Homo sapiens: one gene and its partners. The protein of the gene in region 2 purifies or fractionates together with the protein of the main gene of each other region. This does not show direct contact. Each region holds a gene or a part of one and is shown on either strand. Other genes may lie near its edges.

What was found. Proteins that work in one complex are often made in the same cells at the same time.
Region 1: the proteins of ZSWIM8 (region 2) and METTL9 purify together in Homo sapiens (co-immunoprecipitation; one large-scale study listed by IntAct). This does not show direct contact.
Region 3: the proteins of ZSWIM8 (region 2) and RABEPK purify together in Homo sapiens (co-immunoprecipitation; one large-scale study listed by IntAct). This does not show direct contact.

What each region holds. Positions count from the first base shown.
Region 1 is NC_000016.10:21,609,577-21,613,076, reverse strand, and holds part of METTL9 (protein-L-histidine N-pros-methyltransferase isoform 1 precursor), read right to left. Parts: intron 433-3,500; coding exon 242-432; intron 1-241. UniProt on the Homo sapiens protein: Protein-histidine N-methyltransferase that specifically catalyzes 1-methylhistidine (pros-methylhistidine) methylation of target proteins.
Region 2 is NC_000010.11:73,784,261-73,788,405, forward strand, and holds the start of ZSWIM8 (zinc finger SWIM domain-containing protein 8), read left to right. Parts: upstream 1-1,345; 5' UTR 1,346-1,618; coding exon 1,619-1,826; intron 1,827-4,145. UniProt on the Homo sapiens protein: Substrate recognition component of a SCF-like E3 ubiquitin-protein ligase complex that promotes target-directed microRNA degradation (TDMD), a process that mediates degradation of microRNAs (miRNAs).
Region 3 is NC_000009.12:125,207,042-125,210,541, reverse strand, and holds part of RABEPK (rab9 effector protein with kelch motifs), read right to left. Parts: intron 3,434-3,500; exon of another isoform or gene 3,254-3,433; intron 2,979-3,253; coding exon 2,821-2,978; intron 1-2,820. UniProt on the Homo sapiens protein: Rab9 effector required for endosome to trans-Golgi network (TGN) transport.

The DNA of each region.
Region 1 (3,500 bases), on a different chromosome or scaffold from region 2:
AGCACTACCGTAAGTAACTCCCGCTATGAATAAACATACTAATGAGGCTGTCACGTTATGGTGAATTTAAAGGGCAGAACCACAGAAAGATAGAACGCTGGACCAACTGCCAAGGTTCTGACTAGTAGAAGTATTGTAGCTCAGGTAGTCAACATGCTGAACAAGATAACTTTTCTTTTTGTGTTTTTCCTTTTGTAAACCTAAGGATAAAGAAAAAAATAAATGTCCAAGATTCACTTACCCATTGATAGATGTTCTAGACATAAACAGGCTAAAAACAGATGACACAAAAGAATGATATAATTGGATAAATAGCCAGCCCGATTTCTCAATGCTGTTGTTTAAGAAGATCTGTGTTCCTTGATCAAGGTAACTCTGAACAAAGACAGCCTGGAGTGATTCGCATAATTTCTCTCTGTTGCACACATACCACTAAAAAAAAAAAAAAAAAAAGAACAAAAATTAAAACACACAACCGAAGTGTCACCTAAGAAATCCAAAAACAAAAAACCAGAAGACTAAATCACATCTAAGATTTCCAAATATTACCATCTCATGATACTCTGAGAATAATCATTTCGTATACTCATATAACCTATAAAATATAAAGTACTTCTTCAGACATGACTTCTCATTTAATTCTCTTACAGCCCTCAAGGTAGGTAGAGTGGGTGAGGGAAGGGTGGAGAGGCTTTTGGGTCATTCAGCTTAGTAGGCAGCAGAACCAGACCACAGCTCAGGCACTCGGACTCCCAGCCCAGTGCTTCAGTCACTGTACCCGAGATTTAGAAAGCTCTGCTGGCCTCTCTTTCACTGAGATTCAACATCAGAAGGCAAACAGCTAGCAGCATCCTTGTTTTTAGACAAGAAAACAGTCACATAATCCAATGCCTTAACTCAAAATCACCAAACAAACCCAAATAGCAAAGTAAGCAACAGAATTTAACACTCCAGTGACCAGATTAAGTTGCCTTTCCTCTTGTGGACTATGTAAAAGAGATCTTTAGAAATCTTGAGGTATGCTTTACAAATAGGTCATATGACATTCTTACAGAGGCAACATGTGCTCAAGAAAGATTAAGAAGTTACTTAAGGTCATACTGCAATCAACGAGAAGACCAAATAGTAACATGCTAAGAACCAGATTTCCAGGAATTGGCTCTACCCAGAATCCACATTCTAGAACAAAATTCAAAAAGCTTCACCTGTAGATGAAATTTAATCTTTCATAATAAATGAGTCAGCATACCAGAGAGGTGGGGAAGCAGACTGTACATCAGCTTTAGCGTCAGCCCCACAATCAAGTCCCGGCTCTGCCCTTCCTATGTGAGCTCAGACAAATCACTTAAATCTCTCAGCCTCCATTCATTTGTAGACTAGAGATGTCACTGGGGTCTATATATCCTGGCAGGGTACGATGAGGATTAAACAAGATAATGCAGGCAAGTCCTCAACATAATACAAAGCACGTAGTGAGAATCCTACAATAATAATAGCAGTGAGATTCCTCTAACATAGCCTGAGAAATAAGAATAAGCCCCTTAAGTACAGTGATGAAACTACAAAGTATATCAATTATTATTAACCCATTATCTGCCATGAAACACAAATTTTTCCCAGTCAATTGGCCAAGAGTAATTTGCTTCCCCTTGACAAATACGACCTTTTATCAGCAGTAGACGTCCCATAAGTGCTTGCACAATTGGTAGACCAGCTTTACAGTCATCCTAAGCTTACTAATGTTCAGTGAAATCTTAAGTAACATTCCTGATGCTAACGTTAAAAGGAACTAGTTACAAATCAACACAAACAAACAGGCACGTTAAATTTCAGAGATTAATCATTTTACAAACTCTGTTCCCTAAACTGGGTAAACCAAACCTTTCCAGTTGTGGACTAATTTGTGCTAATTTGCCATTTCATCACAGTTATCAAAACTGCTTGGACTTTATATATAAAACTGTTTTTATTTTTCCTACTCTATATGACAAGCTATGAAGCTTTTTACATTCACTGCCTACATTTTTTCCCTTGGTCTGAAAATGTTCTTGCTTAATGATTTTCTAATTCTTAATACTTATTGTGCCTGAAGTTATGCTCCAGTGCAGGTCATAAACCGTTTTTTATTATACTCATGACCTCCTGGTGCACGTTCTGAACTCTGTAATATGGAGGCCACTCTGACTTTTATTTATTTTTTATTCTCTGAAATGGCTAATCAAGATGAAAGCCATCACCTTGATAATAGGCAATCAGGTACATTTTATTAATGTGGATGAGAAGTCATTCAAGTGAAACAGAGGAGCTAAGAATTCCTTGGCATCCACTTGTAAATGGACTAGAACAACAATAGATTCTGACTTCTAGAACCAAGCAGGAACTGGCACCATTAGCTGCAAATAGTGCTTTCAAGCACCAAGAGGAAAACTCAAGTTTTTAATAGCATTTTTCTCAATTCATCAACATTAACACGTGTGGTTGAACCCTTACTGTCACACAGGTCTTTCTGGAAAGAAACTGCTTATTGAACAGAATGTGCTACAGAACAAAAATAGAGCAAAGCTCTTCTCTTTAAAAAGAAAGGTGAAACGTATGTCCTTTCTGACCATTTGCATGACACAAATGTCGATTTCACAGCAGCAATGTCAGAAACTGCAAACAAGTCAAATGTCCATCAAATGGTGGATAAGCAAGATGTGATAATAGATTCATATAAAATAATAGCATGTTCTGCCATACAAAGGAATGAAGCACTGCTTCATGCTCCAGCATGGATGAACCTTGACAACATTATGCTAAGTGAAATAAGTCAGTCACAAAAGACCACATACTGTGTAATTCCACTTACGTGAAATGTCTTGAATATGCAAATCCAGAGATAGAAAGTAGATAGTAGATTGTGGCTGCCAGGGGCTGGGGAGCTGGGACAATGTGGAGTGGCTGCTAATGGACATGAGGTTTCTTTTTGGGGTGATGAAATGTTCCAAAATTAATACTGGTGATGGCTGCATAATTCTGTGATTATACTAAAAATCAATGAATTGTACTCTTTAAAAGGATAAATTTCATGGTATGTGAATTATATCCCAATAAAGCTGTTTTTTAAACACACACACACACCCCTCCCTAAATATGCAGGTGGCAGTTAGATCTTCCAGAAATTAAAAGTGGCCTGAAAACATAAGTAACCTAGAAAACCTCTTAAAATGCAAATTTTAAATGCAAATCTGATCACATCACTACCCTGCTTAACAGGAATCTTAGGATAACATCCAAAATGCTTAATATGGCTTATAAGGCCCTGCACGATTTTTGTTCATTCTGTGTCTCCAGCCTCACCTCATGACATTCCCTACCAACCCATGACCCCTGGACCCTCACTCCATCACACAGCTCCACCCCTTCCTTCTTTTTTCTGGAAGGCCCCTTTCCCGTGGCTGTCTCACATGGTATTTGCTCTGCCCCCCAACATTTCCCACCACCTAACCCACTCTCTCTTC
Region 2 (4,145 bases):
TGCCTAGTTGCTGAAGGCATTCGCTTTTGTGATTCCCCTGATACTAGGAAAAATTGCATAGCATTTTATGTATACTCTGCCCTTTCAGGCATAATTCAGTTAGCTTTTTTTTTTTTTTTGAGATGGAGTCTCGCTCTGTCGCCCGCGCTAGTGCAGTGGCACGATCTTGGCTCACTGCAAGCTCCGTTTCCCGGGTTCACGCCATTCTCCTGCCTCAGCCTCCCGAGTAGCTGGGACTACAGGCGCCCACCACCACGCCTGGCTAATTCTTTGCATTTTCAGTAGAGACGGGGTTTCACCGTGTTAGCCAGGATGGTCTCGATCTCCTGACCTCGTGATTTGCCCGCCTCAGCCTCCCAAAGTGCTAGGATTACAGGCGTAAGCCACCGCGCCTGGCCTTAGGAGTTCTTAACCTAGGTCAATAGACTCCAGTTAAGACGTCTGTGAACTTGGGGGATAATTTATATTTTTAACTCCAACTGAAATTTAGCATTTCAGTCAGGGCTATGGAAAACAAACCACAGTAACATTATCAAAACCTATATGAAATCATGGTATTTTCATACCATGTTACAGTTGGTTACAAATATCTCAAAAAGCATTTATACTCATCACTAGCTTCAAAATTATGATAGTTACTACGCTTCCTCCTAGATCTTGTCATTTAATGTGTAAATAAAGGAGCACTATTACGTTACAGATTTGTTCTATTAATAGTTTAATAATTGTATTTAAACAACTGGTTTCCTTTGTAATTCTTGGTATTTTGTGCATTTGTAAACGATCTGAGAAGGGGGTCCAGAAACCTACCTAGACTGCTAAAGGGTCCATGGCACAAAAAAAGGTTGAGTTACTAGATCCAAAGGCCGTATGGACAAACAGTACAACCATTTCCTGAAATCAAATGCATTCTTTTCTGATGTTTCCCCAGTTAGACCCTATAAAAAGGTCGGCTGGATTGCAGACTTCTGGACTACGATTCCCAGAAGGTGGTGCGGCCCTGGGGCCTATCCAGAGTTAAGACAATAACTCCATCCAATAGTTGCTGTCCTCTCCTGACAGCCTACAATTCCCAACATGCATGGCGGCTGTTTATGCCTTGGGGACATTATGGACTCCGAGTTGTTGCTGGGATCTGTAGTTGCTTCGTATAACGTTGGGAGTTGGCTTCCTCTTATGATGTCTGAGGGTGGGCTCGAGGGAAAAAAAGCAAATGCAGCCATTAAATAAAAATGTCCCCTACATCCGCCCGTACCCGATCCGGATCCCGAGCGCGCGAGGGCGGAAGTGGTGGTGGCCCGCGCGGCCGGAAGTCCAGATCAGCTGATGGGGGAGGCGGCTCCGCAGCCGCCTAGAGGCCCCAGCCGCCGAGCGCTTCGTCCCGGCCCTAAGTCTCGGAGACTGGCCAAGATCACCGCTTGCACCGCGCTGTTGGGCGAGGCCCGGTCCCGTCTCTTTCCCAGGCCTGAGATTCTCGCCCGGCACGGCCGCCCTGAGCGCCCCGGCCACCCCCAGCCCCGGCTCGCCCCTCAGGCCCCGGGCCTCCCCTCAACCCCCGGCCGGCGGCCCAGGCCCCGGATCCGCGGGGGGGGACCCGGCCCCGGGGGGTGCGGGCCCCATGGAGCTGATGTTTGCAGAGTGGGAGGACGGAGAGCGCTTCTCATTCGAGGATTCGGACCGTTTTGAGGAGGATTCACTCTGTTCCTTCATCTCCGAGGCCGAGAGCCTCTGCCAGAACTGGCGGGGATGGCGCAAACAGTCAGCGGGGCCCAATTCCCCCACTGGCGGCGGTGGCGGAGGTGGCAGTGGCGGTACCAGAATGCGAGGTGAGAGTGAGCTGGGGGGAAGAGGAGCGGCAGGCCCTGCTTGGGCCTCGCTCGGGAGCTGTCCGGGACCAGGAGCTGTCCCCGACCAAGAGCTCTCTTCAACCAGGGGAAGAAAGGGGAGCTGTCCCCGGCCGGGAGCTGTCCCCGACTGGGAGCTGTCCCAAGCTTAGAACAGACTTCAGAACTCGCTTTTCCGGCCTTCCTGGGGTGGGCTGGCTTCTCCACACCTGTGTGTGTGTGGGTGTGTGTGTGTGTGTGTGCGCGCGCGCGCGTGCGCGCGCTGTGACAGGGAGATCCTGTGGACAGAAAGTAAATCTTTCGTCACTCCTTTGCCTTAGAGAGGGGATAAGGGAGAAGAATCTTGTCTTTGACTTGGGAATACTTAAGTGAGTTCAGTCTGAGGCATACCGGAAAGTAGAGGAAGAGAATGTGGGTAGGGGGCTGATTGTGAAGAAGTGACCACTTGTGGCTTGTCACCGCATTGCAAAGTGCATTGGGAGCTTCTTGCTTCGGGGTGATGATCTCTGATCCCAGAAGCACCAAGAAGGGATCCTACCCAGAGGAAAATAGAGGTGAACTGGCCTGCCAGAGAGTCCATAGTTCATAGGTTTAGATCATAGACTTTGCTTCTGGCCATGTCAAATATCTGTCAGAAGCCAAGGCTGGGACTTGCCTGCTGTGCCTTCCTCATGGCACAGTTTTTGTCCTGGTCCTCAGTGGAAGCTGGCTTTTTTCAGCAGTTGAGATGTTTAATTTGTGTGATTCTACTCAGGCCTTTCCAAGAGTCCTGTTTTCCAAACTGGCTTGTGGAGATTTCTGGTGCTCCTTTGGGACAGAGAGAAATTTACATATATCACTTTTTTTTTTTTTTTTTGAGACGGAGTTTTGCTCTTGTTGCCCAGGCTGGAGTGCAATGGCACGATCTCGGCTCACCGCAACCTCCGCCTCCCCAGTTCAAGCGATTCTCCTGCCTCAGCCTCCTGAGTAGCTGGGATTACAGGCATGTGTCACCATGCCCGGCTAATTTTTGTATTTTTAGTGGAGACCGGGTTTCTCCATGTTGGTCAGGCTGGTCTTGAACTCCCGACCTTAGGTGATCTGCGCGCCTCGGCCTCCCGAAGTGCTGGGATTACAGGCGTGAGCCACCGCTCCCGGCATATATATCACTTTTTAGGAGTGGCGGACTGGTGGCATTCAGCTTCAGTTGGAGAGAGGATATGGCCTGTGTACACACACACAAACACACACAGATCATAGGCAGTTTTACCGTGGGTCTTCTGTGGCCTTCTGGCTTCTTTCATATTTGAGTATGTGGGTGGTCTTGGGGCTTAGTGCTCCCTCACTTTGAGGGAAGTAACTGAAGTCATAGCGATGAAGATTGTTAACATATTGGTATCTTCCTGGTCAGGTTAAAATCTGGGAAAACATGCCATATTACCCCAGTCCCCCGACTTCAGTCACTGACTTGTAAAATAAAGGGGTTGGCCAGGTGCGGTGGCTCGTGCCTGTAATCCCAGTACTTTGGGAGGCCGAGTCGGGTGGATCACTTGTGGTCAGGAGTTTGAGACCAGCTTGGCCAACATGGTGAAACCCCATCTCTACTAAAAATACAAAAGATTCGCTGGGTGTGTTGGCACCCGCTTGTAATCTCAGCTACTTGGGAGGCTGAGGTGGGAGGTAAGTTTGAACCCAGGAGGGAGAGGTTGTGGTGAGCCAAGATGGCACCATTGCACTCCAGCCTGGGTGACAGAGTGAGACTTCATCTCAAAATAAATAAATAAAAATCAAAAAAATAAAATAAAGGGGTTAACTCTTCTAAAAAGGTTCTTTTTAATTCTATGATTTTCTGATCTATTAATGTGACTAGCAATTTTGTGAGATGTAGTTTGTCATGTTATCACTACTTTTTGGTTAAAACACTGTGGAAAACCTTGAGTGGTAACTTTATCTTAGTCCAGGTGATTCCAGTTGCAGCAGTAGCTAGGTGCCCTGCGATAACTCTCTCCCCTTGAGGGTTTCCAGTGTGGGAAGTTGTCATTTAGGCGCGCCAAAAGTGGTCTGGCCTCTCGTGCTTCTTGAGATCCCTTCCGGGCTCTGGTCTATCTTGTCTCCTTAGCTGGGGGCCTACAGTCATCTAGAGTAAAAGGGATGGTTAAAAAAAAAAAAAAAAGGCAATCGGAGACAAGAATGCCAGAGGAGAGACATTAACCATGTAATTTGAATTTAAAATGCTCATGGAATATGGGAAATTCAGTGCTGAGCCATGTGAGCAGGGTTACTTGCTAGGGTCCTGGAACGCACCTGTCTGGCCAGGAGTTT
Region 3 (3,500 bases), on a different chromosome or scaffold from region 2:
TTCACCATGTTGGCCAGGATGGTCTCGATCTCCTGACCTTGTGATTTGCCTGCCTCGGCCTCCCAAAGTGCTGGGATTACAGGCGTGAGTCACCACGCCCAGCTAATAATCATTTCCTTTTTTTTTTTTTTTTTTTTTGAGACGGAGACTTGCTCTGTCACCCAGGCTGGAGTGCAGTGGCACGATCTCCACTCACTGCAAGCTCCGCCTCCCGGATTCACGCCATTCTCCTGCCTCAGCCTCCCCGAGTAGCTGGGACTATAGGTGCCCGCCACCACGCCTGGCTAATTTTTTGTATTTTTAGTAGAGACAGGGTTTCACCGTGTTAGCCAGGATGGTCTCGATCTCTTGACCTAGCGATCCGCCCGCCTCAGCCTCCCAAAGTGCTGGGATTAGAGGCGTGAGCCACTGCGCCCAGATCCAATTGTTTCTTATTAGCAGGTTCATTCATTCATTCATTTAAATACTTATAGAGCACCCACTCTGTACTAAGCCCTGTGGTAGTGTCTGGGATACAATGATGAGGAAAATATGCTATCTGTTTCTGAGGAGCTTATGTTCTTGTGGGGCAGACGGACAAGAAACAATCACATGTGATAGGGCTGTGAAGGCAGACAGGATGGAAGAGCACATGAGACTACGGACATACAGAGTCATGTAGTGCCTGAACGAGTCCAGAGGTAACAGGAAAGGTTCCTGGTAGAAGTGACATTTAATCTGAAATCTGAAAGATATAGAGAAGCCAGATGATAAGAAAAGGGAAAAACATTCCTAGCAGAGGGATCTGTGTGTGCAAAGGCATGGAGGCCAGAGAGCTCAAGCTGTGTTCAAGGAACTGAAGGATATCCAGTGCAGCAAATGTGGGTTGGAGAGAGCCAAGAAATGAGGTTGGGGCCGGGCTCGGTGGCTCACGCCTGTAATCCCAGCACTTTGGGAGACTGATGCAAGCAGATCACTTGAGGTCAGAAGTTTGAGACCAGCCTGGCCAACATGGTGAAACCCCCATCTCTACTAAAAATACAAAAATTAGCCAGGCTGGTGGCACGCGCCTGTAATCCCAGCTATTCAGGAGGCTGAGGCAGGAGAATCGCTTGAACCCAGTAGGCAGAGGTTGCAGTGAGCCAAGATTGTGCCACTGCACTCCAGCCTGGGTGACAGAGCGACACGCTGCCTCAAAAAAAAAAGGCTGGTGTGGTGACTCACATGCATAATCCCAGCACTTTGGGAGGATGAGGCGGGAGGATCACCAGGTCAGGATTTGAAGACCAGCCTGATCAACATCGTGAAACCCCATCTCTACTAAAAATACAAAAATTAGCAGGGCATGGTGGCGCACACCTGTAATCCCAGCTATTTAGGAGGCTGAGGCAGGAGAATTGCTTGAACCCAGGAGGCAGAGGTTGCAGTAAGCCGAGTTTGCAGCACCACTGCACTCCAGCCTGGGCAACAGAGCAAGACTTGGTCTCAAAAAAAAAAAAAAAAAAGGGAGGTTGAGAAAAGTCTGAAATAGGGAGTGACATGGTTAGATTTGTATTTTAGATGATATTCGCTGGCTAGGTAGAGAAAATGCACTGTATAGGGGGTAAACTTGGAAGCAGGGAGGCTGGTGAGGAGGCTCTTGTAAGTCTAGTTGAGAGATAACAGTGGCTTGGACTACAGTAGTAGTAGTGGAAATGGACAGACATGGATAAAGATAAGAGATATGTAGGCTGGGCGTGGTGGCTCATACCTGTAATCCCAGCACTTTGGGAGGCCAAGAAGGGTGAATCATGAGGTCTGGAGTTCGAGACCATCCTGGCCAACATGGTGAAACTCAGTCTCTACTAAAAATACAAAAGATTAGCTGGGTGTAGTGGTGGGCGCCTGTAATCCCAGCTTCTCAGGAGGCTGAGGCAGGAGAATCGCTTGAACCTGGAAGGCACAGGTTGCGGTCAGCTGAGGTCGTGCCACTGCACTCCAGCCTTGGCAACAGAGTGGGACTCCGTCTAAAAAAAAAAAAAATTAGCTGGGCATGGTGGCACATGCCTGTAATCCCAAGTACTTGGGGAGGCTGAGGCAGGAGAATCTCTTGAACCTGGGAGGCAGAGGTTGCAATGAGTGAAGATCGCGCCATTGCACTCCAGCCTGGGCAATAAGAGCGAAACTCCATCTCAAAAAAACAAAAACAAAAAACAAAGAAAAGAGATATGTAGGGCTTAGTGATATATTGGATATGTGAATAGAATGAGTGGTGGTAGTCATCAATGTATCCTACAGAAATATTTGATGAATAAATGGCTGGACAACCAGGGCTCCATAAGGGTTCTCTCCCGCTAAACAAGGAGGTACTGGTCAGATGAATGTGTGCCAGGGGCCTACTAAGAAACCTGAGGGATCTGTCAGTGATGCTGACTTTTTCTTTTTTCTTTTTTTTTGAGACAGAGTCTTGCTCTGTCACCCAGGCCGGAGTACAGTGGCATGATCCTGGCTTACTTTAACTTCCATCTCCCCAGTTCAAAGTAATTCTCCTGTCTCAGCCTCCCGAGTAGCTGGGACTACAGGTGCCCACTACCACACCCGGCTAATTTTTTTGTATTTTTAGTAGAGACAGGGTTTCATCATATTGGTCAGGCTGGTCTCGAACTCTAACCTCAGGTGATCCACCTGCCTTGGCCTCCCAAAGTGCTGGGATTAGAGGCGTGAGCCACCACACCTGGTCCTGGCCATGTTTTCTTATAGGAAAACCCTGCTGGTGTTTTTAGGAATGCCCTGCTCATGGCTAGCAGCACACAGCCCTGTTCTCTGGCCATAGGGCATGTACTCTGCAGCTGCTGATCTTACCCAGATCCATGGTGTGCACGTCTGAGAAGCTTCTGTTTGGATTTGCTCCCCCAACAATGAAGACCTTCCCTCTCTTGGCATTACCAACTGGGGGTAAATATGAACAGCTGTGGCCAACTCGAGCACAGGGGCTGTCTCCAGGGACAGTCAAGGTGTACCTGCCAAAGGAAGGATGTATTCAGGAGGCCTGAGCAGAGAATAAATGCAGTAGTGTGCTCTTTCCATTCCTCATGAAATATTCACCAGAATGAAGAGCCTTATGCAGACACTTTAAATTGTACCCAATAAAGCAGCACTTCTCTGATTAATAATAGTACCTCCCCTTTGCACACAGTCTTTGGCTTTTCAATTTTGTCACTGTCTTCATCTCACAGTAATCTGGTAGGAATGCACTGGGCTTATTTTTCCCCATTTGGTAGATAGGGAAACTGACCTCCAGAAATGTTCAGTGATGGGTCTTGGCACAGGATGGTGGCTGTGAGCATGGTGTATGAATTCAGACAGATCTGGTTCAAATTCGAGCTCAGGTACTTCCTAGATGTGTGACCTTTTGGAAGTCACTTAACCTTTCTGAACTTTAGTTTACTCATTTGTGAAATGAGGACAGCAATGGTTCTTTTTTTTTTTTTTTTAAGATGGAGTTTTGCTCTTGTTGCCCAGGCTGGAGTGCAATGGCGTGA